Regions from separate parts of the Homo sapiens genome. Here region 2 is linked to region 1. The links come from fine-mapping of genetic effects on gene expression. A gene starts in region 1. The other region holds a variant in brackets. All regions are shown on one strand. Distances are between the middles of the regions. Region 1 holds the start of PDZD2 (PDZ domain containing 2). Region 2 overlaps PDZD2 (PDZ domain containing 2).

The links. PIP is the estimated chance that this variant, and not a neighbour inherited with it, causes the effect.
Region 2: its variant is fine-mapped to the expression of PDZD2 in tibial artery (GTEx, PIP above 0.99).

The regions. Positions count from the first base shown.
Region 1 is chr5:31,637,813-31,640,724 of GRCh38, reverse strand. It overlaps PDZD2 (PDZ domain containing 2), which reads right to left and starts at 1,594. Exons shown (of 25, transcript NM_178140.4): 1 at 1,288-1,594. RefSeq lists a silencer at 1,291-1,640.
Region 2 is chr5:31,742,733-31,745,644 of GRCh38, reverse strand. The region is part of intron 1 of PDZD2 (PDZ domain containing 2); the gene reads right to left. Among named protein-coding and RNA genes, the nearest start is that of PDZD2, 110 kb to the right of the region's middle. The variant T/C (reference allele first, on the strand shown) is at 1,466.

The DNA.
Region 1 (2,912 bases):
CCCCCACAAGCAGCACTCCCACTTCACACCTGCCAACCTGTACCTATCTGGCCACCACCCAGAAGTCACAACCCACAAAAGCTGGCCCAGTAGAGATGCCAGGCCCCTAAAGCCCTCCAGTGTTCAGAGACCCCACTGGAGAACAGGCCCTGAAGGTCCAGGGGGTCTCTCTGCAAGGACAGATCAGGGCATCACTTACTGCAGCCACTCAGCAACCACTTCCAGTAGTTTCATTGCGATTTGTCAAGGCAAACATATCCACCTACCCTACCTTTGGTGGAGGCAAGAGGTTAGGCCAGCTGCAGGGGACAGACTCAGACTCAGCTCCATCCCCCAACACTGCCCAACGGCCAGTCCCAGGGCAGGTCTGGAGCTCTGGAATGCCCTCGTGCCTGCCATTCCAGTCTCTGCGACCAGCCCATGCCAGACCTTGTCCTCTTCCCACTCCAGTGTCCCTTATCAAGGTCTCTGCATAGATTTGGGCTGCCGAGGACAGCTTCTGGCAAACTCCTGCCAGGGGTCCTGGACCCTCCTGCTGCTGAATTCAGCCTTGCGCTTTAATGGATTTTCCAAATAGCGGGGACCACAGGCAGCTCAAAGACTTAAAACACAAACGCAAACCCGAGGGAGGGAGAGAGGAACAGAGGGAGGGAGAAACCAGATTTTAGGAGAAACTCGACTTCAGAGAGAGAGCAGGATTTCCCTATCACTATGTTCCCCATCTCCCCGGCAGACGCCAATAACCGGCCCTAAGATGCCCTTGATCTTTGCGCGCCCCCTGCATTCCCTCGCCCCGCGTCTAACGTCTCATCTGGGCAAAGAGGCGGGGGTTGAGAGATGAAACAAGCCCGAGGGAGGATGGTCCCCAAGACATTACCTGAGGCCGGAGTACCTGAGTACCTCCACTCCTGTCGGAGGAAGGGACCAGAAGACGGCCCAGGGATGGGGACCCGGGATGCGCGCCCGAGCAGGAGGTCCCGGCCCTGTCTTGAGTACCCCCGGCAGTGCGTCTCCGGTTGTCCCGCTGTCTCGGTCCCGCTCTGTCTAGCCCCCTCCCCTGGGCTGCGCCCTCCCCGTCCCCGGCCGGATGCTAGAGGAGTTTGCGCCGCCCAACGTGGGACCCCGGTTCGGCGTCCTCACTCCCCGCCCTGCCAGGGCTGGGATTCCCGCACCCGGATTTGTAGCTAAACTTTCCTGGGCACACACGGTCTCGGGGGTGCCGGGCCTCCCCCATCCCCTGCCCACCCGGAGCCGCGCGTCCCGGCTGCAGCGGGACGGTCGCTTCACCTGCTCGCGGCTTGGCCGAGGCTCCCGCGGCTTCCTCGCGCGTCCAGACCCAGGCGCCGCCCGGCGGGTCCCCGCGCAGCTGCCGCCACCGCGGCCACCACCGGTGCCGCCGCCGCGCCTGCCCCGAGCTGCAGAGCCGCGGTTCGCCGGCAGCCGCGGGAGGCGCAATCCCGGTGCCTTGGGTTCGGCCTGCGGCTCCTCGGCTGCCTGCAGCCGCCGCCCCGCCGCGTCCCGCTGCCCGGGGCCGGCACGCACCGGCGCTGGGGTCCGCTCCTCGCCTCGCTGCGCAGGGGATCCGCCGAGCCTCCAGGATGGGCGGGGATTCCCTCCCCCTGGTTGATTCGAGGGGCGGGAACTCCCTTCCCCGAGTGACAGGGACGGGGGGCGGGGATTCCCCTGCAGGAATAACAAGGTGGGCGGGGATTTCCCCGAGCGAGCCCCGCCGCGGGCAAGGCGTCTCTCTGGGTGAGCCAGGAGTCCTGGTGCGCCCGCTTCAGAAACCTGGGGATCGTGGGAGGAAGGCATCCAGGGAGATGGCTGCTCCGAATCTCCATACAGGCGGGGCTTAGGGCGCCATCTAGGTGGAACAGAGCGAGCTAGGGGACGTGAAGTTGCCTCTGCATAGCACTTTACACAGCAAAGAGAAAAATGTCAGTTACCTTATCAAAGAATGGGGCGGAGGGGCCACAGGAGATGGGGGAAGAGCTAACCACTCACCCCAAGCTACCCTTAGCCTCTGGTCCTTGGGATACCAAAGGTAATTTAGCACTGGTACGAGGATTTCGGGGAGAGGGGACCTCTTGGCACCTCAGAGCTGCTTAATCCCCCAGTTAAGCCCCTGGGGGGGAATCCCATGGCCCTGGGGTGGTGGTTTTGGTCCCATGAGCACTAGCCACGAGCTCCTGCCGAGTGGACTGTGAGAGCTAATGCCAGCCGCCCTTGGCTCCCGTCCAGGTCACTCGAGGAACCGAGCCTCAGGCTTTTGGGATCCTTCATTCCGGTGGATTTTCAGGAAGGCCTTCAAATATTTTTGGTTCTTTTTTTGTCATCCTTGTCATTCTGCCTACCAAAGGGAGAGGATGATAAGAACATAATAGGAAGACTGCACAGCTCTGCAAATTAAGCTCTCTTAAGAGGAAAAAGCTGGTCTTTTTCAAGTGCTGGCAGATAAGAGTAAAAACATATGAAAAATTGCAAAACCTGGGATAATGAATAGTTGAATAATGCTTTTGACATTTTCTACAGAACAGTAATTGGAAATCTTTGCTTTCGGGGGGATGGGGATGGGACAGGGCAGGCCCCAGCTGCAGTTCTGCCCAGCAAGGCAATAAACTCTGGCCTCTCCGAAAAGCAGGCAGACATAAATCACCTGCGCAGACCGGACAGCGCTGTCCCACCACACCAGAGACCAGAGTGGGCCCAAGGCATTTGGAGGTGGTATTGTCCTCAGGGGCTGGGGTGGAGAAGTTCTTGATTTCAGCTGTTCTTCAGCTTTTATAATTACCAGGCCATTGAGATCAATGCTTGCACAAATCCAAGCATCGTATATGACAAGCTGGGCACTCAGGCACTCAGAGCTTCTCTTCCTATGTGTAAATAGAGAAAACACCTACCATGCAGGATTG
Region 2 (2,912 bases), 100 kb before region 1:
TAAAAGGCTAATGGAATGCTTTTTGCAAAAATGGACGACTCTAATGAGCATGTTGGTATTGAAAGGTGAGAGGGAGCGTGAAAGCATGAGCGAAGGTGATTTGGGCTTCACAGTTAGTGAGACCTGGGCAAGGATGTCTCTCCAGGGCGTGTGTGAGAGCTTCTTGGAGGACAAAGACTTCCCACATCCACTTGAATCCATTTATTTTTATCAAAAAATACTTATTGAGCACCTACTGTGTATCAGACACTATTCTAGATGCTGGGGATAAAACAATGTACAAAATAAACGGAACTAAAACTCTCTACACACACGTACCCACACATACGAAGAGGTGTGACCAGTGTTTTTATCTGGATGGTGGTGTTATTGGTCTTTATACCCCTTTGGGTCCATCCACATAGTCTATTTTTTCTACAATAAACACAAATTTCTTTATTAATATGAAAAATATTGCTTAAAAACTAAACATTAAAAAGAAGGCACTGAGACACAAGAGAGAAGGCAGTGGGTATCTCAGGGACACTTGGTGTTTATTTTTTATTTTATTTATTTATTTATTTATTTTTTTTGAGACGGAGTCTCCCTCTGTCGCCCAGGCTGGAGTGCAATGGCGCGATCTCGGCTCACTGCAAGCTCCGCCTCCCAGGTTCATGCCATTCTCCTGCCTCAGCCTCCTGAGTAGCTGGGATTACAGGTGCCCACCACCACGCCCGGCTAATTTTTTTTTGTATTTTTAGTAGAGGCGGGGTTTCACCATGTTAGCCAGGATGGTCTCAATCTCCTGACCTCAAGATCCGCCCGCCTCAGCTTCCCAAAGTGCTAGGATTACAGGCGTCAGCCACTGCACCTGGCCACACAGAGCTTCTTATCCTAGCAGAGGGAAAATTCTTTTTAGCATGATTAAGCTATTCAGTTGTTCACTAAAACCTTCTGAAATAATTTGACTATATCCTTGGACTCAATAATTATGCATGCAAAAAAGGAGAAAGAGAATACAGTGTTTTTACAGTGAGATTCTTTCCTGTTCAACCATGAAGGGGAAAAATCTTTCTTCTTTTTTTTTTCAGAATTCAAATCGAGCTAATATTGGAGAATACATGTCAAAAAAGATTATATAATTCTTTCAAATGATATCAATATCAAAAGGCACTTTAAACAACTCGTTTTCTTTTTTCTTTTCCTTCTTTTTTTTGGAAGTGAATTAAGACCCTCTCTTGGATACCAGCTGTGAAAGAACGGACTTTTTTTACCTAGTAAGGATGTGACAGACCTGCTCCTGACCCTTCTTTGTTAGTGGCCAGTAAATATACGCAAGGCAAAGTCCCACCCTAGTTTTGAAAAAAGCCAAACTAACAACTCTGCCCAATTTCAAGGAACCGATATAATTTTCAGTACATGAGTGTGATTTAGAAATGGAAACAACATCAGAGCAGGGTTAAATCAACAACCAAGCCATAGACCT[T/C]AAAAGGACCAGACTTCATGGTTCAATGATGCCAAGAAAAAGATTCCACCTATAAACTCTTTAGAAAGTAACCACCTCAGAAAGTTCCAGACAAACCAGTTCTGCTTTGCAGATCAGCCCTGTATAAAGCTCTTACCACATTAGTAAGAAGTTACTTGTGCTTTGGTTACAAACAGGCACAATTAAAGGGAAGAAAAGGAAAGACTAGGACAGAAAACTCTATATTTGATGCCGCCTGAGCCAATTAGCTGAGTCTAGAATTCTTTATTTCATTTTCTCACCTACTAGCCTCTCAAAATGCACAGTCATTGTCTGGATTAGCAAACTACACATCATGCATACCTGGTCTTTCAGTTTCTTCCGTGGGGCATGTTTCTTCCATTTCTTTCATATCTGAGGCACCAATATCCTAGCTGAGAATCTGACAGAGAGTGGGCACCCTCTCAGTGGTTGCTGGGGATAGATGGACGAATGAATGGATGAACTGAAGGATGAAGGAACAGGTGAAAGATTTGTCCTAAAAGAACCTGGATGCCATAGGCCTGCCTTCAAAAGAGCCATTCCCCTATTTCTAGCGATGATTTAAACTATTCATTCCATGAGCAATTTATTTATTATTTTCAATATGCTAGGCATCATGCAAGATACAATAGCATAAAAATATGACAGACTTCCACTGTACCAGAAAAGAAAATACAAGCAACGACAAGCAGTAGAATATAGGCCAGGCACAGTGGCTCACGTCTGTAGTCCCAGCACTTTGGGAGGCCGAGATGGGTGGATCGCTTGAGCCCTGGGCAACATGGCGAATACCTATCTCTACAAAAAAATACAAAGATTGGCCGGGCATGGTGGCGCATGCCTGTAATCCCAGCCATTGGGGATGCTGAGGCTGGAGGATCACCTGAGCCCGGGAAGGTTGAGGCTTCAGTGAGCCATGATTGTGCCACTGCACTCCAGCCTGGGCAGCAGAGTAAGACCCTGTATCAAAAAAAAAAAAAAGAAAAAAGAATATAACCTAATATGAAAATACATGACATACTCAACACTAAAGAGATTCAGAGTAGGTCAAAATCAATGTATGTATGGCAGAATTCAGCAGGGGAAAAGAGTACTAATGCTATTCATATAACATCCTCCAAAGGTGAAGATGGACTGGCTAATCAGAAAGAATATTTGGAAAAGTTTCTGAATTCACTTAGAAGCTCAATTTTCTATCTAGCACTACCAAATAACACATAGCAGAAAAAGTACTAGGTTGACAAACAGAAGAAACAATAATCTTCATTTAATTCACATCTTCCAGCAGTAGTTGGTAAGCCAAATGCTTTTAGAGACCAAGCAGGTAACTGATCAAAGCCCTTTGTGTACCAGGGCTTGTTCTAAGTGTATCACAAGCATTTTTCCTAGTCCTTGCTACAGTCCTCTGGGAAGACACGAATATTAT